7 linked regions of the Homo sapiens genome follow. The gene in region 1 interacts genetically with each later gene. Each region holds a gene or a part of one and is shown in the gene's direction. Other genes may lie near its edges.

What was found.
Region 2: changes in PTAR1 (region 1) and SECISBP2L are lethal when combined (synthetic lethality), as found in Homo sapiens cells (one study listed by BioGRID).
Region 3: changes in PTAR1 (region 1) and VPS52 are lethal when combined (synthetic lethality), as found in Homo sapiens cells (one study listed by BioGRID).
Region 4: changes in PTAR1 (region 1) and SPTLC1 are lethal when combined (synthetic lethality), as found in Homo sapiens cells (one study listed by BioGRID).
Region 5: changes in PTAR1 (region 1) and SLC35A2 are lethal when combined (synthetic lethality), as found in Homo sapiens cells (one study listed by BioGRID).
Region 6: changes in PTAR1 (region 1) and TXNDC15 are lethal when combined (synthetic lethality), as found in Homo sapiens cells (one study listed by BioGRID).
Region 7: changes in PTAR1 (region 1) and TRAPPC13 are lethal when combined (synthetic lethality), as found in Homo sapiens cells (one study listed by BioGRID).

Annotation. Positions count from the first base shown.
Region 1 is NC_000009.12:69,750,012-69,753,511, reverse strand, and holds part of PTAR1 (protein prenyltransferase alpha subunit repeat-containing protein 1), read left to right. Parts: intron 1-2,561; coding exon 2,562-2,731; intron 2,732-3,500.
Region 2 is NC_000015.10:49,036,447-49,039,946, reverse strand, and holds part of SECISBP2L (selenocysteine insertion sequence-binding protein 2-like), read left to right. Parts: intron 1-2,177; coding exon 2,178-2,356; intron 2,357-3,500. UniProt on the Homo sapiens protein: Binds SECIS (Sec insertion sequence) elements present on selenocysteine (Sec) protein mRNAs, but does not promote Sec incorporation into selenoproteins in vitro.
Region 3 is NC_000006.12:33,252,328-33,254,876, reverse strand, and holds part of VPS52 (vacuolar protein sorting-associated protein 52 homolog), read left to right. Parts: exon of another isoform or gene 1-179; intron 180-2,549. UniProt on the Homo sapiens protein: Acts as a component of the GARP complex that is involved in retrograde transport from early and late endosomes to the trans-Golgi network (TGN).
Region 4 is NC_000009.12:92,042,414-92,045,913, reverse strand, and holds part of SPTLC1 (serine palmitoyltransferase 1), read left to right. Parts: intron 1-3,500. UniProt on the Homo sapiens protein: Component of the serine palmitoyltransferase multisubunit enzyme (SPT) that catalyzes the initial and rate-limiting step in sphingolipid biosynthesis by condensing L-serine and activated acyl-CoA (most commonly palmitoyl-CoA) to form long-chain bases.
Region 5 is NC_000023.11:48,902,683-48,905,664, reverse strand, and holds the end of SLC35A2 (UDP-galactose translocator), read left to right. Parts: intron 1-182; coding exon 183-919; coding exon of another isoform or gene 920-1,075; exon of another isoform or gene 1,076-2,199; coding exon 2,200-2,227; coding exon of another isoform or gene 2,228-2,301; 3' UTR 2,302-2,482; downstream 2,483-2,982. Other genes in the region: PQBP1 (polyglutamine-binding protein 1), read right to left, coding at 2,581-2,737, 2,870-2,933. UniProt on the Homo sapiens protein: Transports uridine diphosphate galactose (UDP-galactose) from the cytosol into the Golgi apparatus, functioning as an antiporter that exchanges UDP-galactose for UMP.
Region 6 is NC_000005.10:134,873,024-134,877,170, forward strand, and holds the start of TXNDC15 (thioredoxin domain-containing protein 15 isoform 1 precursor), read left to right. Parts: upstream 1-1,347; 5' UTR 1,348-1,404; coding exon 1,405-1,507; intron 1,508-1,807; exon of another isoform or gene 1,808-2,109; intron 2,110-2,220; exon of another isoform or gene 2,221-2,375; intron 2,376-4,147. UniProt on the Homo sapiens protein: Acts as a positive regulator of ciliary hedgehog signaling. Involved in ciliogenesis.
Region 7 is NC_000005.10:65,638,527-65,642,026, forward strand, and holds part of TRAPPC13 (trafficking protein particle complex subunit 13), read left to right. Parts: intron 1-3,500.

The DNA of each region.
Region 1 (3,500 bases):
GTGTATATATCTATTTCCATCCAGGACTTGGACACATGCTGTTTTCAGTATACTTTATTAGGAGAAAATCAGAGATAATGTTCTTTTAGAGGGACAAGAAGTGAAAACTATTAATTTGAATATTATCACTAAAGTACCAGGATAATCAGCCTTTCAGGAAGCAGCTATTGGGCACCTGCTATATCCAAGCCATTCTTATTTTATAAAGTATTTCTTGAAAGAACAGACAGTCAAAGCAGTGTGTTTTTTAATTGTGCAGATGGCTCTTTTCTGTAGTTTAGATACCAAATTATTAGCTGGGCATTTTAATCCTAGTTTAATTAGTGAGCAAGACAGGTTTTTATATTGTGAATTTAAGTTTAAAAAAAAAATCCCCCCCAAAAACAAACCATACCCAGAAACAGGATTCTTTTATTCTTGTTACTATAACAGTTATATTGTTGACTCTTGCAGTTCTTTGAAGTGTTGTAAGTAGGTTATTATATCTCAGAGAACAGAATTTCCTGAAATAATCACATTGAGTTTATTTACTTATTTAGTTTTACTTTATTTTTTAATATTCTTCATGTAGTAAAACACAAACATCAGAAAATACCAGAGATTCAGTCATATATTAGTCAAGTATAGCTAGATATGGCTAGGGGTCATAATAATGAATTAGATAGATTTCAGGATACTACCAAATAGAGATGCACAAAATATATTTTGAAATACTGGGCATTGACCTCAGGTGCTCTTTCAGCTTTGTCCTTATTCTTCCTACAGGACTTTGTTTATATTATTGGAGTAGTAAAGTGGTAACATTTTATTATGGATATTGACACAGATCCCCAGCAAGACTTTAGCTCTTTGAAGTCTGAGACCACTTTGCTTTATTCTTTTTGAATTTTAGAACCTAAGAAAGCACCCAGTACATTGTAGTTAATCAGAAAACTTATGATAGTATTGATATAGTATATCAAAACACCTTTGAGTCAACGGAACCAATTGTAAGGATAAAAACCCATAGATCCCACAGTCTTCTTGAGAGTTAAATTAGCTTGAAAGAATTGTTAGTGTCTTGCAACCCCTAAGATATCCTTTTTATTGATAAATCCCTGTGCCACTAATGAAGTGATCAGTAGAAAGTAGATTACCTCTAAGCTATTCAGTTTAGTTTCCAGGAGGGGTTTTATTTTAAATCCACAGCCTCCTACCAATTTGTGATAGTGGCCCAACAAAAAGACAGGGTGTTTCTCCTACTTTGTAATTCAACCAATTTCCCTCTTTTGGGTCTATCAAACCACTGTGTTCTTGGTAAGGGGATGCCAGGGACATAATACATAATGTCACACACAAACTCTGAAAACCAGTTCATTATTCTGCTTTTTAAAGACATGTTTAAAATATCTATATAGACACTCTAAAAACATTTATTTCAACTACTCTTATTGTTAAAAAGTTTCTTGTTATTCATTAATTAAACAGAGGACATTCTGTTTGAGAAAGGATCCTTTGTGTAGGCAAGAATTATAACTTCCTTTAGAGTTGAAAGGCATGTGAATGTGTTTTGCACAAATTTTTTACGTTTGCTGGTTCATTTACTAAGTAAGTCAAATGCCCTACATATTGTTTATTAAATCTCTGCCTTTAATGTAAATTTTCAGCTTAAGTTGAGGTGGATTGAGGGATATAGATGCTACCACAGAGGAAAATTATTGAATTCTGAAATGTATTTTGTGTTTTAACATTTATTTGGGTGGTTTTTTAATTCAGGAAAATATAAAGAAGAAAAAATGGCCCAAAATCTCACTGATAAAATAACGTTTTTTGATACTTTGTTTCTGGTCCACATGCATTTATTAGCAAGCAAGCATAAACACATTTGTTGACATTAAAAAAATAGAAATACATACAATTATTAGATAATTGAAACTGTATAAAAATAAAATCCTTCCTTACCACCTTTCTCTCTCCAAAAATTTCTTGTTATCCTTCCAAGAAAATTTTTAATGCATCTATATATCTTCTAAAGAAATTATACAAAAGGATTTGTGCTGTACACTGTGTTCAGCATTTTGCTTTTTGTTTTCATTTCATATATCTTGGCAACTTTTTTTATGTCAGCATATGCAGATCTACCTCATTGTTTTTTAATGGCTTGATTATGTGGATGGGCCTTTTTTTTTTACTAGTCTTATATTGATAAACATTTAGATTGTTTCTAGTTTTGTTGCAACATTGCAGTGAACATCTGATTCACATATTTTGGCATAGGATAATTTCTGAGCAGTTGAATTGCTGGATCAAAGGGTATGTTCCTTCAAAATTTTGAAAGACTTTTTTTTAAGTTGCCATCCAAAGGCAAGACCAGTTTTCACTCCTGTCTACAGAGAGTACAGCATACTGGTTTTCTCATACTCTTGCCACTATTAGCATCTACCAATCCCAGTAAGTGAGCTAAATAATATTTGTAAGGAAGGGGGAAATATGTGGGGTTTTTAAAATACTCTGAAATTAGAAAAATGTTGAAAAGGTTAGTATCCTTATTTTTAATTCTTTTTTATGTTTTACATATTAAGAGATGAAATTGGCCTGATCCCATGTCCTGAAGCTAGGTATAACCGGAGTCCCATAGTCCTGGTTGAAAACAAACTGGGTGTGGAGAGCTGGTGTGTCAAGTTCCTTTTACCATATGTCCACAACAAGCTCCTTTTGTACAGAACAAGAAAGCAATGGCTGAACAGAGATGGTAAGTATGAATCATATTTTCTTCATTTGGTTTTTAGAAGCGACATGGAATATAGTAGGAAGAGCCCTTCTCTGAGTGTCAGCATTCCTGGATTCTAGTTCTGCTTCTTCTGTTCACTGTCTCGGTGGGTGCTAACCTTTCTGTCAAGTGAGTAGTTTCTACTCACCTGGACAAATTTTACAACCACAGTGATTATATAGAAGCCCTCAAGCAGAATTTCAGGGCACCTCCTGTAACCAGAGCAGTTCAGATTTTATCAGTTTATGTATTGGGGTCATTGGTAAGATTTCATTTGAAGGAAAAAAAAAAATCTGAATGTCACTGAAGAAGACTCTAGTCCCTATAGGCTCAGTCTCTGGTTTCTAATCCTTTAGTATTTTTATAGGCAGCAAAACTCATTTTCATAGTAGTCCAAATGAGATAATGTAGGCATGATAGTGGTAGTGATATTATGAACCAGCCCAGTGATTTATGGATGTGCCATTCCACTGCAAGTTCCAGTTGAGCTCTGGCCGTTTGTATCCTGTTCCTGTGCTGAAATGAGCAAAACAAAACTATCCGGCATTCACTTCTTCCATTTCTCTCAGACAGTTTTTTTTTTTACTGCATCAGACAATCCCTAATCATTCCATCTGGTCTCTTTTCTTGGTGTTCTGCCATATTAAGCCTCCATGTGCACAAATTCTGTTTATCATTGTATGCCCACCTCAGGTCTCACTTTTTGGGAGAAGACTAATTTAAGACCATGTCCTTTACTGTTTTTGTAAAG
Region 2 (3,500 bases), on another chromosome or scaffold:
ATAATTTGATGTACCCATATACCTTGCTGAAAAAAACCCCGAATGTCTACTAGCTCAGATTTATAAAACTGCTCAGTGAGTTCTCATATGTCGTAAAGAACTTTTTGTTTTTTAAAAGAAATCCTGGCCAGGCTCATGCCTATAATCCCAGCACTTTGGGAGGCTGAGGTGGGAGGATCACTTGAGCCCAGGAGTTCAAGACCAGCCTGGGAAACGTGGCAAAACCCCATCTCTACATTAAAAAGTTTGCTGGGTATGGTGATGTGCACCTGTAGTCCTGACTACTTGGGAGGCTGAGGTGGGAGGATCACTTGAGTCCAGGAGATTGAGGCTGCAATGAGCCATGATGACACCACTGCACCCCACCTCCACCTCCACCCCGTGACAGAGCGAGACCCTGTCTAAAAAAAAAAAAAAGAAAGAAAAAAAAAAGAAATCCTAAAAATTACATTTTTAGTGCAGTTAAACTGTGATTTCAGTTTCTTTTCTTATGCATGTATGTGTGAACTGTATAAAGCAAGCTTCCATTATCTTTGCATTATTGCTGTACGTCGGCTTTTCTTTTTCCTAATTGGGGAAATATTTATTGTTTTGATATATTGTGTCCTATATAAGTGAGTTTGGGTTCTAATGAATATCACAGAGTGAAAATTACTAGCTTGTATCATTAGAGTTTGAAGATATTTTTGCCTCTTATGTTAATCTTTAAGAAACCAACTTCAGTTCACTAATATTTGTATTATTATTATAGTATATCTACTTCTGATTTGGTTAATAGTACAAATGTAAACCTCAAATCAGGTAGGGAGGAAGGATACTGAATTAATACTGCTGGACAGTTCAGATTTTACCATCCCCACCCCTTCCCTTTTAACAAGCATTTATAAATATTTACAGTGAACTTTTTAGAGAAGTTAATTTTTCTGAAACAAATGAGCATATCTCATCTTCAGATTTTTTACTTGGATTCCTTACTAGCTGCTTTTGTGAGAAACATGAAATTTATTCTTACAACTATGTTTTGGTGGGAGCCTCTAATAAATATCACCCTAGTGGGTTTGTTGGGAAAAAGTTCTGGCTAGGACCATGGCTTTTAAGGTAATTTTTTACAGTAGTTAAAAACATTAGCTTGCATTTCACTTACTGGTTTCATTAAAACATGTTTCATATCATTTGATATTATAATATTTATATGATTTTTTACAGAATGTACTTAATGATTTCAAAAAATAATTTAAAATGTTAAATTTGTTGTTAACTATAACATATAGAAACTGCATAAAACCAATGTACAGCTTGATGAATTGTTACAGGACAAACACCTTGTAAATTTTATCCTGGTTAGGATATAGAACTTTGCCAGGCACCCTGGAAGCTCTCCAGATTCCTCTTAATCACAACTCTCTTTGCTAAGAATAATTCCTATCCTGACTTTTATGGATTTTATTTACTTTTCTTTATAGTTTTGTTGCCCATATGTGCATCCCTAAATACTACAGGGTTTTTTTTTTTTTTATGTCTTTTAAATCTCTATAGATTTCTTGTAAGAAAAGATACAAAGTAAACTAAAATGGATTACATATCTTGGATTACTTTAGTTTACTCACATGTGTACTGGGAAACTGAAGTACTCATATTTTCCCCAGTTTAACTGTGCAGATTTTTTCTTGTTAATGTTAAGTATTTTTTCATCTTAGACATTTTTTCTTTTAATGATACTGATCTAATTTCCAGAAATGGACAGAAATAGACAACTTTTAAGACTATTCAAACAAATATAGAGTAATAATTATCCTTCATAATTTTGTTCAATTTTTCCCCCAACAAAATGAGTTAAAAACACATTGTTTTGTCTGAAGAGCTACATCTCTTACTACCAACTTTATTTTTAGAACCTGAGGTATAACTTCTGTGTTCTCTTGATTGTTTTAACAGCTTTAATTACATTGAAATGTAACATTTGGTTTATTTTCCTTATTTGATGGCTTTGTCTAAATAACTTGATCATTATTCAGTTATTTTAAAATTGACATTGCTCTTCCTTTTGGATGTTTTATGAATGCTGAGAAGAGACCTAATTACTGTTTATAAGGACTGACTCTTCTGTTGTTAAATTTTGAATTTGTAGGAAGTTGCTTGCTCATTTGTTATTAATGTATTCTACTTTCTCTTTGAAGAATGTCAAGCTGTCAGCTGAGGTGGAGCCATTTATTCCCCAGAAGAAGAGTCCTGATACATTTATGATCCCTATGGCTCTCCCAAATGATAATGGAAGTGTTTCTGGTGTGGAACCAACTCCAATTCCCAGCTACCTGATTACTTGTTACCCATTTGTGCAGGAAAACCAGTCCAATAGGTAATTTGTTTATTTTTATTTTCTTTTTTGTGGGGGTGGCTATAAAAGCTGGCAAAGTGCACTTAATATTTTTCCTTTGCAACTTTTAGACTTTAACCATTTCTCTATTAAGAGGAGTAAATAAAATGATACTGAAATTTGGAAATTGTTGATATGGATTAGTTTCTCATTTTTTCTAAGAGAAAATTGAATTCTTAGGCTATGTCTCCTTCAGTAAGTCATTGAAATTTATTTGAAGTAAGTCAGCTCAAAGGGAGAAATAAAATATTCAGAGGTGAACAAAAACCTTTTTTTTTTTTTTTTTTTTTTTTTTTTTTTGAGATTGAACATCTAATCTCATAGTTGCCAAGATAGTCTCTGGTGTAAAAGAAAATACCAAGCAATAGTCCTTAACTTTGAAGCTGTCATGGTTAGCATATATTAGTATTTCTAGACTCAGATTTTAGTTTAAATTTATGTCTGTGCTATAGTTACAGGATGATTTAGCAAAATTGCCCGCAATTAGGTCATGTGTAACCTAGTGGTTAGGGTGTTACTTATGATAGTCGTGATAGCCATTCTAACCCTGCTTATACTGTCTGAGTGATTAGCACTTCATTGGTATAGTTTATTTTATGGCTGTATAAAAGTACTTTCAGCCTTTTTCAAGTTATGTCACACAGAAAATTTCGTTTTTCTAGGACTGTAAATGGATGAGGCAGCTGTTAACTGGCTATAGGCTCTGTCATTCCTGAGGGCTGAGTCAATCAATATTTCCACCCATCTATAAACCACTGTTGCACATTAGTGTGCCAGTGCACATTCTTTGAGAAATTGTGGATGTATGGTATATAAGGCCATTCAACTACTCAAATATTAAATGTTCAAGTTAATATTCTGAGGCTGTTAATCAAGAGTCTTGAGGGTTAGACAAATAGTAGAAACTAAGGAATCATTTTCAATTGAAGTTAGCATGATATTAAATATCTTTGCCTATATTGGATAATGTGCAAACTGATTCATGAAACTAAATTTAATAATACTATTTTTCTATTTGAAAAAATGGCCAAGTATACAGTATGATAAACTTAATTGATTTTCTTGGTTTACCAAATAATCTTTGTGAATTTATGAGTAAACAAGCCAACAGATTATTTAAAAAATA
Region 3 (2,549 bases), on another chromosome or scaffold:
TGGTGAAACCCCATCTCTACAAAAAATAAAAAAAAAATGAGTGGGACATGTTGGCACATGCCTGTTAGTCCCAGCTACTCAGGAGGCTGAGGTGGGATAATCACTGAGCCAGGAAAGTTGAGGTTGTAGTGAGCTGTGATTGTGCCACTGCACTCCAGCGTGGGTGATGGAGCAAGACCCTGTTTCCGAAAAAAAAAAAGAAAAAAAAGATATACTTAAAATTTATTCTAAGATGAAGTCTTCAAAATCAGGTGTATATATCATGCTTACAACACATTATATAATTTATGGCTCCTGCCTAGCAGGGGTCATCACTGTTAGTTCAACTTTTCTTTGGCAAGTCTACTCCCTGTGCCCCACCGTACACTGCTACATTATTGTTTGTATATGTGTGTGTGAGACTGCATTTAGGCAACTGTAATAGGTTGAATTTGGTTATTTAATCTCTGTCCAAAATCACATCACAAAGATGCCTTGATTATAGAAAGATCCTTCCTTGCAGCATATTAGTTATTTGACACCCTCAGTGGATATAAGTGAATATTTTGAGGGAAGAATAGAAAAGATACAATTTTTATTTATTTATTTATTTATTTATTTACTGAGACAAGTTGCTGCTCTGTCGCCCAGGCTGGAGTGCAGTGACATGATCTTGGCTCACTACAACCTCTGCCTCCCGGTTCAAGTGATTCTTCTGCTTCAGTCTCCCTGAGTAGCTGGGGTTACAGGCATGCACCACCACACCTGGCTAATTTTAGTATTAATAATTTATTTTTAAATGGAATAATAATTTCACTTTCTTCTTACCAGATCTTTCTGTCTGGGTTGTTTGCTTTTATGAGTTTTTTTGTTTGAATCTCCCTTTTACATTAAACAAAAATTAACATTTTATTATGGGAAATTTCACTATGCTATTAGAAAAGCATAGTGAACCCCCAGGCATCATCAGTGATATTCGGTGTATAGCAGTTCACGGACAGTTTTGTTTCATCTATACCAACACCTATTGCTTATCCTCCTTCTGTGTCCCCCAGTTACTTTGAATTAAATCTTATACATATACAGATGAATATTATCACTTCATCTGTATCAGAATGTTATTTTTATTAAGAAAATTATTTTTGAGATAGGGCCTTGCTGTAGTGCCCAGGCTGGAGTGTAGTAGCATGATATAACTCCCTGCAGCCTCGAACTCCTGGGCTCAAGTGATCCTCCCACCTCAGCCTCCTAAGTAACTGGGACTACAGGTGTGTGCCACCACACCTGGTAACAGATGGTTTTAAAAACTACAATACATTATCACACTTAAAAAAATTATCTTATCTAAAATAACTATTCAGATTTTCCCAGTTATTTCATAAGTGATTTTTTTTTTTTTTTTTTTGAGACACAGTTTCACTCTTGTTGCCTCCAGGCTGGAGTGCAATGGCCCGATCTTGGCACACTCCAACATCTGCCTCCCGGGTTCAAGCAATTCTCCTGCCTCAGTCTCCTGAGTAGCTGGGATTATAGACACCCACCACCACGCCCAGCTAATTTTTGTATTTTTAGTAGAGACAGGATTTCACCATGTTGGCCAGGCTGGTCTCAAACTCCTGACCTCAGGTGATCTACCCGCCTCAGCCTCCCAAAATGCTGGGATTACAGGCATGAGCCACTGTGCCTGGCCTTCATAAATGATTTTTATGGTTCAAATCAGGATCCATATAAAGTCCATATATGTGTCTTTTTTTAGTCTATAGATTTCCCTTCCATCTCCTCTGCAATTTATTTTTGGAAGAAACTGAGTTATTGAGTCATTTGTCATCTAGAATGATGTACAGTTTAGATTTTGCTGACTGCATTCCATGGTGTGGCCAAACTTCCTCTGTCTGGTGTATTTCTCATAAGTGTGTAATTAGATGGAAAGGCTTGGTCAGATTTAAATTAGTTTTTTTTTTTCTACAGGGATATTTGAGAGGTAGTGGTATGTATTTCCATCAGGAAGCACATAATGTCTTCTTGGCTCTCTTTGTGATGTTAGTAGCCATCAATTTCAGTGCCTAGATACATTAATTAGATTTCTGTATCTCCTACTATCTCAAAATTTTCCATCTTCTGTCTGTGCTACATTCTGAGTCCTTTCTTCAGTTATAAATTCTAATTCATTGTATAATTCTTGTTAATCTGTTGACTTTCTAAAACTGGCTTTTCATATCTAAAAAAATTTCCTTTTTTCAAGTCTGTTCATTCCTCATAGTTCTTACTAATTGGTCATTTTTACATCCTTTTTTTTTTTTTTTTTTTTTGAGACGGAGTCTTGCTCTGTCATCCAGGCTGGAGTGCAGTGGCATGATCTCTGCTCACTGCAACCTCCGCCTCCCAAGTTCAAGTGATTCTCTTGCCTCAGTCTCCCGAGTAGCTGGGATTATAGGCATCCACCATCATGCCCAGCTAATTTTTGTATTTTTAGTAGAGATGGGGTTTCATCATGTTGGCCAGGCTGGTCTTGAACTCCTGACCTCAGGTGATCTGCCCACCTCAGCCTCCCAAAGTGCTGGGATTACAGG
Region 4 (3,500 bases), about 22 Mb from region 1:
GGTCAGTTTGACCAGATTGCAGCTAAGAAACCAAAAACTTAGTTCACTCACATTGGTTTATTTGTGTAAAACCAGATCATCTGTTTTAAAGAATCGTGACTTTGTTTTTCTGAAAATGAAACAAACTCATTAATAAAATATTACAGCAGTACAGAAGATAGAAAGATGAAAATAACAACCCAACATCTTACCACCAGAAATAACCAGGGTAAACACTGAAGCATCTCTCCATGTCTGCACACACAGGGATGCCATTATATATTATGTAATTAGATGACTGGGTTCATACCATCTGTGTTACTTTTTAATAAATTACTAAGTTTTAACACAAGAAAAAGAAACAAGTGAAATTTTATCAGTGTTTTTTTTTTTTTTTTTTTTTTTTTTTTACTACACAAGAGTCACTTTTTTTTTTTTTATTATACTTTAAGTTTTAGGGTACATATGCACATTGTGAGGTTAGTTACATATGTATACATGTGCCATGCTGGTGTGCTGCACCCACTAACTTGTCATCTAGAAGAGTCACTCTTTAAGATTCCTCTGTAGTTAAAAAAAAAAAAAAATGGAGGTTGGTGATATCTCCAGGCACATTTCTGGTCTTATATAAAGTGATTTCACATTGCCCGAGGTCTTTCTTTTTGCCTTTCCTAAGGTTAAACATGCTTTCTTGGTCATGAAAGTCCTATCTGTGTTCCGGATATGGAAACTGGAGACTTAACTGAAAGAAAAGGACAATTGATAAATGAGTACATCACAGCTGTTCCAGATAAAGAAGGGGCAGAGACATTAAAGTTCTGGGTGTGTCTGTGTGATAGTAACAGCAGTTCTTGCATGATTTATGGTAGAGAGATATATTTGTATTGGTTCCAGTTCCATTGGTTTGTGAAATATTAATATGCCAACACAGCCTAGCATATTGGAGTCACTGGAAATGCATCAGTGCTAGCCTTACATGCCTTTCACTCTATGGTGTTAACCTGCCTTTTTCTAAGTCTAATCTCCACTTACCCCAGCTGTATCACACTTTTTCTTTCCAAAATTCCTAATCCTCTGTCTTCACTCCCCTCACTTTTAGCTAACAGCCTGGCCTTATGCTGTCACTTGGGACTCTGTCATATTTCCTGACAAATCTACACACCTGTGGGTATCTGAACCAGTCTTCCCTCCTGTAGACCAGTAAATGTTGCTCCAACTACCACAGGCCCTTTTTTTAAGGACTGAGTGCCTTTGCTTGTCCCTGCTACTTTGTCATCAGCCTGTCCCCTTTCTTGTGTTATTTGATTAGCAGTCATGTCCACTTTAAATTCCTCTTGCCTGTCACCTGACGTTTCCCTCTGCAACTCCCCATGTCTTTGCTCCTCTCAGTAGCTATCATCTCCACGTCTTCACTTACACTGGCAGCTCTGAGACCTGGCTTCTGCTACTGCCCTTCGCCTGGACTGTTTTTGTGGAGGTCTCCACTGACTGCTGAATCCAGTGGACCATCTTCAGAGCTCATCTTCTTGATGTCCCCATAGTTTTCAGCACAGGTGACCACTCTTTCCTTCTTTGGACTCTGCTACACTGCACGCCTGGATTTCCTTTTACATCTTTGAATGGCTCCATCTCGGTCTCCTCTGAAGGCTTTCTTTCAACACCTTGCTCTTCAAGGCTTTGTCTGTGCTTCTCTTTTCTTCTCATTACCTTCTTGAAGAATTGCCTTCTCCCACACCTGGAGCTCCACATCGTTTCATGACACCTGTATAGAGACAGCTCCCAGCTTCGTATCACCACCCTGGACCACTGCAGCTGCAGGTCTCACACCCAGTTGCCTACTCAGTATCCACAGTTGGAAGACTCCATGGCACCTCACAGTAAACACACATTCATAAGGGTCGCAGGGGCAAACCGTGCTGGTATCTAGATGGTTACAGAGAACAGTAAACAAAATAGCAAAGAGGCCAATGTGACAGGAGGAAAGGAGTGGGAAATCTGGTGGAAGATGAGGGCTGGGTCATGGGCCATCCGCACACAGGGACTTGTGAGCCGTGATGAGGACATTGGCACACAGAGGAAGCCCTGGCATGGTTTTGAGCAAAAAAGTGAAACAGCCTATCTGATACCCTAGCAAAATTACTTTTGCATGGTGTGAAAAAATACATTGAACAGCAGTAAGAACAGAAGCAGGGAGACCAGTTAGGAGATTGACGCAGGTGAAAGGTGATAGTGACTCTGACCATGTTGGGAGCCATGACCTGCGAAGTGTCTGGATTCTGGGTATCTTCTGAAGGGAGAGCACACTGGATCTAGCAGAAGTTCATATGCAGGGTGAGTGAGAAAGAGAAGACTCCAGGTAGAGCTCAGGGGGTTTGGTCAGAGTAAATAGGTAGAGTTGCTAATGAGTGAGAGGGACAGAACTGTGGAGAAATACCTTCTGGGGAAGGTCAGCAGTGGTTATGTTAAGCCCAAAGTGCCCATCAGACATGGAGTGCAGAGCAGCAGCTGGATATACAAGTCTGAAGTGTGAGGGAGAGTACTGAGCTAGAGATAAATGTTTGAGTCTTGGGGTATGGATATTATATGAAGCATTTCAGTGTGAAGAGGTCAGAAACTAGCAAAGACTAGTCTGAGAAAGAGTGGCCAGTGAGGAAGAGGCAGGCTGGAAGAGCCTAGAGTCCTGGAAACCAGGGAAGAAATTGCTTATGTAGGAGGTCAGCCTGTGACATGCCGCTGCTGACAGGCCAGACCAGATAACAGAACACTGATCCTTTGACTTCGTTATGTAGAGGTATTATGACTTGGTGAGTAGTTTCAGGGGAGTGTGGGGTAAAATGCCTGCTTGAAGGAGGTTCCAGACAGGTGGACACGGCCTAGATGACTGTTTTGAGGAGTTTTTCTCTGAAGAGGGACTAAGAAACAAGATGGTGGCTGGAGAAAGAAATTGGTCAAGAGAAGAATATTTCAGTTTAAGATTACTGAGATCAATTTCTGAATAACATCTGGCTAAGTATAAAACATCCTTTCTCCTACTGGTTGACAGTACTGTATCATATACCAGGTTCCCATTTGTACCTAGATCTGTTTTTAAACTGTCTCTTCCATTCCATTGGTATATTTGCTCATTCCTCAGACTCTTTTGATTTTGTCTGTTTTTATCACTGTTTTGGAATACAGGTTTATCACTAGTGTCTGTTTTTATCACTGTTTTGGAATATGGGTTTCTCCAAAATTATTGCTAGAATCTTAATTGGAACTGCATTAAATTTTCTGATGAATGTGGAGGGAAATGTCATCCATGAACATGAGCTCTCTATTTAAATCTCCCTTTGTGTCCTTTAATGGAATTCCTATAAAGCCCTTGTACCTTTATGGAACCTTTAAAGGGAATTTTCAGACATCCTATAGATTTTGTTGCTGTTATGAATGGGGTTGTCTTTTCTGTTATATTTTCTACTTGATTATTGCTGATTCATAAGAATATTATTATTTTCTCTAAACTGACCTTATATCCAGGAGTC
Region 5 (2,982 bases), on another chromosome or scaffold:
TCAGAACTGTTTTGCTGCAGCTCAGCCAATGGCCAGTGGCTGGCTCCTTTTGCTGTTTTTGCTGTCATACCCCCCACCCTGTCCCTCCATTGTGCCTGGGGGCCCACAGTGGGTGCTGCCCCCCATGTGCACCTGTTGGGGGCCAGGGTCAGCCCTCAGTGCCTTCCACGTGCCACTCGCAGGTGACATACCAGCTGAAGATCCTGACCACAGCGCTGTTCTCCGTGCTCATGCTGAATCGCAGCCTTTCCCGGCTGCAGTGGGCCTCCCTGCTGCTCCTCTTCACTGGCGTCGCCATTGTCCAGGCACAGCAAGCCGGTGGGGGAGGCCCACGGCCACTGGATCAGAACCCTGGGGCAGGCCTGGCAGCCGTCGTGGCCTCCTGTCTCTCCTCCGGCTTCGCAGGTGTCTACTTTGAGAAGATCCTCAAAGGCAGCTCAGGCTCCGTGTGGCTGCGCAACCTGCAACTGGGCCTCTTCGGCACAGCACTGGGCCTGGTGGGGCTCTGGTGGGCTGAGGGTACCGCCGTGGCCACCCGTGGTTTCTTTTTTGGGTACACACCTGCTGTCTGGGGCGTGGTGCTCAACCAGGCCTTCGGCGGGCTACTGGTGGCTGTGGTTGTCAAGTACGCTGACAATATCCTCAAGGGCTTTGCCACCTCCCTGTCCATTGTGCTGTCCACTGTTGCCTCCATTCGCCTCTTTGGCTTCCACGTGGACCCATTATTTGCCCTTGGCGCTGGACTCGTCATTGGTGCTGTCTACCTCTACAGCCTTCCCCGAGGTGCAGCCAAAGCCATAGCCTCTGCCTCTGCCTCCGCCTCCGGGCCCTGCGTTCACCAGCAGCCTCCCGGGCAGCCACCACCACCGCAGCTGTCTTCCCACCGTGGAGACCTCATCACGGAGCCCTTTCTGCCAAAGTCAGTGCTGGTGAAGTGAGGGCTGGCAGCAATGGGGGGACACAAGGGAGGGGGACTGGGGTGGAGGGTGTTGGGCATCTGCAGGACCCAAGTCGCCACCCTCCGGGGCCTGGCTCCTCTGGGTTTGGGAGATGGTCTTTTCTCCCAGGTCACTGAGACTTCTGGAGGGGTGTGGGACTAGAGCTGGGTGTCACGTGAACCCTTCCTGGTAGGGTGACCCCCTTCCCCTGGAGGGGGTTTTAGAGCTGCCGCCTCTGCTCCCTCTAACCTCTTTGGAGGCAGGGTTGGGGGTATTGTCATTCAAGGCCTTTTTTTTGTCTGCTCCCTCCCCGACCCTGTGCCCTCTTCTGGAGGTTTCTCGTCTGGGAGAGTCCCTCCCAGCAGTCCCTCCACCTCCATAAGGACACACTGGACAAAACTCCCGCAGCTCTTCAGGAATGACCGATGCCTACCTGTGGGGTTCAGTTGCCCATAGTTTGAGGCCTTCTCTCCTCCCTTACCACCGCTCTGGATCATGTTACTAGTTCCGTCTTTTGTGTGGCCTTGGGCCAGCTTCCTTGATACCTTGAAGATGGGCTTCTTGTGAGTCCCCAGGGAGAAAGGGACAAGAGCTAAGATTTTTGCATCAGCCCTTCTGGCAGAAGGTGTGGTAGGGGCCATTTGTTTTTTTTAGTGGACTTGGGATTTGTGGTGTAATCATATCATTAATGATCCAGGGTGTGGGAAAAATGGAGGTCCTTGAAGTGGCTGAATCTCATTGTATTTAAGACACTGTCAGTTGCCAGATGTAGGCTTATTTTTGGAGATGTCTAGGAGAGGAAAAAGCTACCAATCATACTCTTGATATCCGTCTGGCTGTGTGAGGCACCCCTACCTCATGGGGGTGTCTTGGGATTGATGAACTGTGGAACCTGCCTCCTGCGCTCCCCAAAGCTTATTAACCCCTTAACTGTATCGGGGCGGGGTGTGTGTGTGCATGGAAGATGCCTGGGCTGTCTTTGCTATATGTAAATAGAGCCATTGGATCTTTATTTTTGATTAATTTGTTCTGATTTTTTGGTTTGTTTTTTAAGGAACTGTAATGAACAAATGTCAGGATATCCAATGCCAAATAAAGATGTTGTATTTATTTAGTCCACGTGTAGCTTTCTGACCAGGTGGGCACCATTACTAACCCCAGGACTACCAGCCTCACCACCGCCGCCCTCACTTGCTCAGGAAACCCGCCTGCCAGCCTAGCCCAGCTTTGTGTTTTTCTTTCCTCCCCATTCCCACCACAGGTTGCTCACCAAGGTGAAGGGTTCCTAGCCGCTGGGATTGAAGACATTGGCCTGGCCTCGTTCTCTCTTCTTGCCCTTGGCCCAGCTGGGACCAAACTCTGATCAGTATTAGGGGTAGAGTGAGGTAGACACTGGACTCCCTGTCCCCACCACCCCTGCCCCACCCAGGGCCAACATGACTAAGCTCTCTCATGACCCACCTCAGCTCAGCCCCCCAGCCCCTGCCAGCTCCACACTATCTCTTAGCTGAGTTTTTGCAAATAAAATGTGTTGTGTATCTTGCCGACTTGGGTTGGGCAGCCTCAAAGGAAGCACTCAGGTATGGTGGGCAGGATCACCAGAAAGCTTTTATTTTAACCCAGGGCCAGGGAGGCCGAAGCTTCAATCCTGCTGCTTGGTTCGGGAGGCCTCTGCATTGGCCCGGAGCACAGCCCCTGGGGATGGATACGGCCGCTGCTGGAAGAGGGGCCCAGCTGCTGTGGTGTCAGCGCCAGTCTTGGCCTCATTCCGCTTGGGGAGTCCTGTTGACCACGTGCCCCTGCCGGTGAAAGAGTCAGGGGATGGGGATGGGTGATGTGGCGGACACAGCCCACCTGGTCCCAATGAGGAATGGAGGAAGGAGGCCGGAGGATGGTGTCCACGTACTGAGTCAAGAGGGGTTGTCACTTACCGGGGGGCGTCTGAGTATGAGCTAGGGTCCATGGGGTCTAACTCTTCATCCTTTCGGCTTACTGCTGTGGAAGTGGCAGGGCAAAGTCTTCAATAGAGGCACCAGGATCCCCT
Region 6 (4,147 bases), on another chromosome or scaffold:
ATACCAACGTATTTAGAATAAAAGAATCATCCACAGGGACAGATTAATGATGCATCTTTCTGGCCTAACAGTGTCTTTTTGATGGGCATAGAGATAAGGGGACTATGGCCACACCATCAGAATTGTATTATTCAATTAATAATGCCTACCACTTTGAAATGCTTCCTGTGCCCCAGGACACTGTGCTCATCACTTTACATCTCATTTCATCTATAAGACTCTATATAACGTCATTTCCACTTTACAGCTGAAGAAACTTAACTTTAAGTTACATAACCTGCTGACTGTGAACTATCACATGTGCTGAAGTTGGGATTCACCAAGCGGCCAAAAAGCACAGGTTCCCCTTACCATTGCTATGTTAACCAATAGACTGATGTATTTTAAATCAGTTTCTATTTTTTCAACCTCATAAGTTTGAAAAGCTGCACTCTGCACTGATTTAGCACTGACTGGTGGCTGCTTAAAGCTTGCCTTATTCCATTTTAGCAGGCCCCCCGGCAAAATACCCCAATTAGTGGTGTCATCCTCTCTATTCCAAGAATTTTCTCTTAAGACTCCCGCTCTGTGCGTTTGCTTGGGAATGCAGAGCCCTGTTCCTCATCTCCCCATCTATGCTTTCTTCATTCTAAGCCCTTTCCTATCTACTTTATGCTCGAGGTGGCTCCACCTCCACCATGAGCCAGAGCCAATGATGCTCACGGCCCCAACCATGATTAAAAAGAGATTGCCCTGCAAGGTAAATCAGTTAAAACCAACCTCTCCTGCCCTGAGTGGATAGGTAGGGTTAGGGTTGCCAGATGTCACGAAGTTACAGGATGCTCAGTTTTAAGGTATATCCCTTATACTATAAGGGTTATAGTAAAAAATATTCATTATGTGAAATTCAAATATAACTGGGTATCAGGTATTCTATGTGGCAACCCTAGGTAGGGGAGCACAGGTTAGGCAAGCGATTAGAAGATTTGCAGCCTCCAAAGTTTCTGCACCTCGATGGGACACTAGAACAGGAAGGCTCCTGGGCCTTTCTGGCTCTGGGAATGAAGCGTGGAAAACCCTCCTTAGGCGGGCGCAGTGCTTCAAGTAGCCAAGCTCTGACTTCCGAGGGAAGAAAGGAGGCCATGGGCCTCTGCCAGAGCCATGCTCTGCACTCTGGGGTCAGCAGAGTTCAAAACGACCTGCAACGTCTGGCGCTTAGCTCCTAAAGAGGTCTCCAGTCCAGCGCCGACGGCCAGCGGCTAGAGGCCGTCCGCCCGACTCCAAGATGGCGCCCGCCACAGCTGCCAGGTGTTAAGATGGCGGCGCGGGGCCGCGCCCGCGCTCCCAGGCTCTCCTCCCCCAGCCTTCCTCCGGCTGGCAGCACGACTCGCGTAGCCGTGCGCCGATTGCCTCTCGGCCTGGGCAATGGTCCCGGCTGCCGGTCGACGACCGCCCCGCGTCATGCGGCTCCTCGGCTGGTGGCAAGTATTGCTGTGGGTGCTGGGACTTCCCGTCCGCGGCGTGGAGGGTGAGTGTGGGCCGGGGGCGGTGCATGAGATGATGGGGCGAGCTGAGGTCCACCCGGGCGACGCTCTGGACCTGCGCGAAGGCCGGCGGTGCGCGACTCGCCCCTTCTTGGCGTCTCCCCGGGCGCGTCTCCCCGACTTCTCTCCCCGCGCACCGCCCGCTGGTGGCCCGCGAAAGGGGGCCGGTGGGCTGAGGGCCGGTGGACGGGAGCCCGGGGGTGGTTGGGCCGCGTTCAGGCCGCCCTCAGCCCGTGGCTGGTAGCCAGGAGGGACAGTGCGGTAAGCGCTGCTGAGGCATACCCTCTGGTGATAAGCAATTTATTATTAATAACATTATATCAAATACCGACATTGTTGTGGCCGTATTAGGAGCCAGGAACTGTGCATCGTGCTTTATTTACATCATTATCCCATTTAATGCTCCCACAAACCCTGTCAGATCGGTTCCGTTTAGTGTCTCCATTTCACAGATGAAGATGCTCAGGCCCCGCCTAAGTTTGCGCTTCTGATACGTGGCAGAAGCCTGTCTCTCTGACGCCAAAGCCCAGTCTGGAGTCCACGCTGCTGGACCACTGTCTTAAGGAGGCCAGTCTTGCTCAGCTCCCTGCATGAAAAACAGACGAGAAACACGGGAGACTCCCGGTAACCCCCAACTTGCCGGTAGGGAAGGCAGCCACTCTAGAGGCATGGCGAGGGTGGAGAGTGGAGGCCTTACTTTCATGCTCCTTCACCCCACTCCTCATAGTCCTGTTAAAGTCCAGACCCTCGGTCTCGCTTGTCATTTAGACCTTAACAGGAATAGGCAGGTCTTTCTTTTCCCTGGGGTGTCCTGGATGGAGGCAGGACAGCAGAGAGTTGTGGAGAAGGGTGAGTCATAGTAACACAATTACCATGAATGAAAGCGCTCACTGTGTACCAGATGCTGTGCTCAGTGCTTTACGAGCATCATCTTTTGGAATCTTTACTGTTTTGTTTTTGTTTTTTTAAGGGATGAGGGCTTGCTCTGTTGCCCAGGCGGGAGTGCAGTGGCCCATCATGGCTCCCTGCAGCCTTGAACTCCTGGGCTTAAGTGATCCTCCCACCTGTTTCCCAAAGTGCTGGGATTACAGATGTGAGCCACTGCTCCCGGTTTATGTAATTTTTATTTTTATTTTTTTTTGAGATGGAGTCTCGCTCTGTTGCCCAGGCTGGAGTGCAGTGGCGCGATCTTGGCTCACTGCAACCTCTGACTCCCGGGTTCAAGCGATTCTCGTGCCTCAGCCTCCTGAGTAGCTGGGATTACAGGTGCCTGCCACCACACTGGGCTAATTTTTGTATTTTTAGTAGAGATGATGGTCCACCATGTTGGCCACGCTGGTCTGGAACTCCTGACCTCAGGTGATCCACCCACCTCGGCCTCCCAGAGTGCTGGGATTACAGGCTTGAGCCACCGTGCCTGGCCTTAGTAATTTTTAAATGCATATGCAGTAGATGTTATCATGCTCATTTTATAGAAGTAACTTAAGACTCAGAGCCAATAAGTCCTTTGACAAGGTCATACAGCCAGAAGTTGAGGAGCCTTGATTCAAGCCCATGTCTGCCTGACTTCAGAGCCCAACCTCTGCATTTTCACTATACTTAACTGCTAGCCTCACAGAGGGGATGGCATGGGTTGGATATCTTCTGTTTCAGCCCCTCCACCGTGCTCTGTGCCCTGTGTGGCTGTCCTGTGTGGAATAAATACCAGCTGTCCTACCGTCTTGCTTCCATTGTGTTGGAATGAGGGGAGAGTGAGGTCAGGGTATTGATTCTCTCCGCTCCCTCCCTGAGAAGTTATTGAAGGCTGGCTTTGCCCCCGGTGGAAAGCATTGAATTCTAGAAAGCTGCCCTCTGTGTTACCCTTGATGTTTCAAGGTTCTGTGACTACTTCTCTCTCCAGACTCTTAAGGTCTATGAGTGGTAACTGGCTCCTCCTCTACTGTTACTGGCCTTGGAATTCCTTACCATTGCTTTTCATTTCTCTGCACCCAGCCTACACATTAGTGGTCCCTTCATTAAACTCTCCTCAACTTGCCCAAGTTAAATGTGCTGTTTCCTGGCAGAACCCTGGCTGATTCAGGGTTCAGCTTGGGTCTTTGGTCATCATGGCCAGGCCATGAATGGGGTGAAGACAGAAGAAACTTCACCAGCTGATTTCTTCTCAGAGTAGCTGAAAATCTGAGGTGTTTTTTTTTTTTTTTTTTCTGCAGAGGATGCCACTGGCAGATTATGCTGGCCTCAGGTGCTGAGGCCCTGAGAGACTAAGCAACCTGGAGGTAGCAATGCTATCCAGGTGTCTAGGAATGGAAGCAAACTCCTGGCTTCAATACCCCTATGCCACTCTTCCCTAGGCAGTCAGCTAGCAAATTCTTACTGAGCACTCATCATATGCTAAACACTGTGCTGAGCACTGGGGATCCAGTGGTGAGTTAGAGCAGCAGGCCTTTGGGGAAGGCAGCCACTAAATAACTACAAATTACTAAGAAAATTGCAAGACTGAGAAATGCATCAAGGAGAGTCCCAGGGCGTTTTTGGGAACTGTAATGGGAGACCTCCCACCCTGGTCTGAGGGTCAGGGAATGTGTCCTTACAGAGGTGACATTTAGGGTGAGATCTGAATGAGG
Region 7 (3,500 bases), on another chromosome or scaffold:
CTTTTAACAGTGAACAAATTTCACTTGGTAAGAGTCCGTAAGGTGGTACAGAGGAATAGTAGCTGTATTAGTCCATTTTCATGCTGCTGATAAAGTCATACCCAAGACTGGGCAATTTACCAAAGAAAGAGGTTTAATGGACTTATAGTTCCACGTAGCTGGGGACAATCATGGCGGAAGGCAAGGAGGAGCAAGTCATGTCTCACGTGGATGGCAGCAGGCAAAGAGAGAGAGCTTGTGCGGGGAAACTCCCATTTTTAAAACCATCAGATCTCAGCCAGGCGTAGTGGCTCATGCCTGTAATCCTAGCACTTTGGGAGGCCAAGGCGGGTGGATCACTTGAGTTCAGGAGTTCGAGACCATCCTGCCCAACGTGGTGAAATACCATCTCTACTAAAAATACAGAAATTAGCCAGGAGTGGTGGCGTGTGCTTGTAATCCCAGCTACCTGGGAAGCTGAGGCAGGAGAATCACTTGAACCTGGGAGGCTGAGGTTGCAGTGAGCCAAGACTGTGCCACTGCACTCCAGGCTGCCTGGGTGACAGAGTAATACTCCATCCCCCAAAAAATAAAAATAAAACCATCAGATCTCATGAGACTTATTCACCGTCATGAGAACAGCACAGGAAAGACCCACCCCCATGATTCAATTATCTCCCACCAGGCCCCTCCCACAACACATGGGAATTACGGGAGCTACAAGATGAGATTTGGGTGGGGACACAGAGTCAAACCATATCAGTAGCCATACAATAGAGCATCTTGAAAGCCAGGCTAAGGTTTTATTTAACCTTTTTTGAAAAATTATTTTTTAAAATGGACAAAAAAATTAATTAAGAAAAAAAAAAACAGGCCTGGCACAGTGGCTCATACCCAGAATCCCAACACTTTGGGAGGCTGTGACAGAAGGATTACTTGAGGCCAGGAGTTCAAGACCAGCCTGGGAAACATAACGAGACTCCCATCTCTACAAACAATTTAAAAAGTAGTTGAGCATGCTGGCACACACCTGTAGTCCCAGCTACTCAGGAAGCTGAAACTGGAGGATTGTTTAAGCCCAGGAGTTTGAGGCTGCATTGAGTTTTGCCTGGGCACTCCAGCATGGGCTACAGAACAAGACCTGTCACTGAAAAAAATTAAATAAAAAACAGCAGGCAGTTGGCTTTTGAGCACTCTTTGTGTTAGAAAGACTGATATGAGCACATTGTGTGGGATGCTTTGTAGAAAATGGAACAGTTAGAAGACCTTTGAAGTAGTGTAGAAATTAAAAGATAGAATATGCTAACTCCGCTAATGACCTGAAATTTCTTCAAAAGAAAAAGAGCAAAAAGAAGGTAAGAACTCACAGTATGTGGGGGAGAGGTTTTTGTAAAACCTGTCTTAGAGTGATGAGTTCAGGTAATTGGAGTATTCCAAAAAGGACCTCTAATTAGAATGAGTTTGAAAATGATCATAGAGTTTTAAAGTTAACAAGGACGTTAGAGAGCAAATAGACCCAACTTCCAGAAACTGGATGCAAATTTGTGCATACACGTACATATGTTTGTCATATATGGATGGGGTCTCTGCCTTTCATTAAATTAGGAGTTGACAAACTACAGCCCAAAGACCAAATTTGGTCCATTGTCTGTTTTTATAAGGCTTTTGAACTAAGAATGGTTTTCACATTTTCAAATTATTGAAAAGAATATTTTGTGACTTGTGAAAATTACATGAAATTCAAATTTCAGGCCAGGTGTGGTGGCTCCTGCCTATAATCCCAGTGCTTTGGGAGCCAAGGCAGGAAGATTGCTTCAGGCTACGAGTTTGAGACCAGCCTACACAACATAGCAAGGCACCGCCTCTACAAACAAACAAAAAAGAAATTCAAATGTCAGTGTCCTTAAATAAAGCTTTACTGACACACAGCCATACTCATTTGTTTATGTTTTATCTGTGGCTGATTTCCAGCTACCACAGCAGAGTTGTATATAGTTGAAACGGAGATTGTATGGCCTCTAAAATCTAAAATATTTGCTAATGACTTCAGAGAAAAAGCTTGCCAACCTCTACATTCGATTGTGAAAAGATCTGATTTTCAAAAGTTTGAGAACATATACTTTTGTCTTTCTATGTTGTAAATATTGAATTTCTTGGAATTCAGTAAATACTGGCAATTCAGTAAATTCAGTAAATATTGAATTTATTTTTATAAGAGATTAATAAAATAGCAAAGGCATATACTTTAAGATGTCAGTACTATAAAGATCAAAGAATACAGTAGTATGCATGTTCTAAAACATGATTTTATATTTCATGCCTTTATTCACTTTTATAATAATAATTATAAGCAGTGTAGTACTCACTAGGGGTCTTAGGCTCAACTAGACATTCAGACTCATGATATATAATAATGCTATTTTTCTTTTTCTTTCTTTTTTTTTTTGAGAGAGGATCTAGCTCTGTCACCCAGGCTGGAGTGCAGTAGCATGATCATAGCTCACTATAACCTCAAACTCATGGGCTCAAGGGATCCTGCTGCCTTAGCCTCCTGAGTAGCTGGGATTGCAGGGGTGTGACACTATCCCTGTCTAATTTTTTAATATTTTTTAGAGACAAGGTCTTGCTATGTTGCTCAAGCAGGTCTTGAACTCCTGAACTCAAGCAAGCCTCCCGCATCAGCCTCCCAAAGTGCTGGAATTACACATGTGAGCCACCATATCTGGCCAGATAAGCCAATTGTGACATCAGAATCACTTAAGAGGATATAGGTCATGAAGCACAGCTTGATATTGACCTGTATTTGTGTGAGTGTTGTCTTTTGATCAGGTTTTAGGTGTCAGTATTATGGTTGCTTAATAAAAGATTTCGGATGTTTTTCCAGTATTTTCAGTGCTTTGGAACAATATGTGCATCAGGCTAGACTCAGTGGCTCATGGCTGTAATCCAGCACTTTGGGAGACCAAGGCAGGAGGAGCCCTTGAATCCAGGAGGATCCCCAGGACTCACCTGGGGAATATAATGATCGATGTCCCTACAAAAAAGAAATTTAAAAATTCTCTGGCCATGGTGGCGCATACTTGTAGTCCTAGCTACTTGGGAGGCTGAGGCAGGAGGATCACTTGAACTCATGAATTCGAGGCTGCAGTGAGCTATAATTGTGCCACTGCATCCTAGCCTGGATGACAGGGCAATACCCTGTCTGAGAAAAAAAAAAAAACAAAAAAAACAAGACAAAACAAATACAGAGAACTGTGGATCATTTAGATTACCTATTCTTTGAACGATTTGTAGAATTCCCTGCAAAATCATATGAGCTAGTTCTTTTCTTTTTTAAAATGGGGAAGCTCCCTGATAACACTTTTTCTTTTTTTTTTTTTCCTATGAATATAGTATGTTTAAGCAGTTTATCTCTAAGGGTGTCAATTTTGTTAAGCTGTTTTTTTCTAGGAAATAATCCATTTCATTTCATGTAGATTTTCACATTTATCTGCATAGAGGTCTGTAAAGTAGGCTCTTAA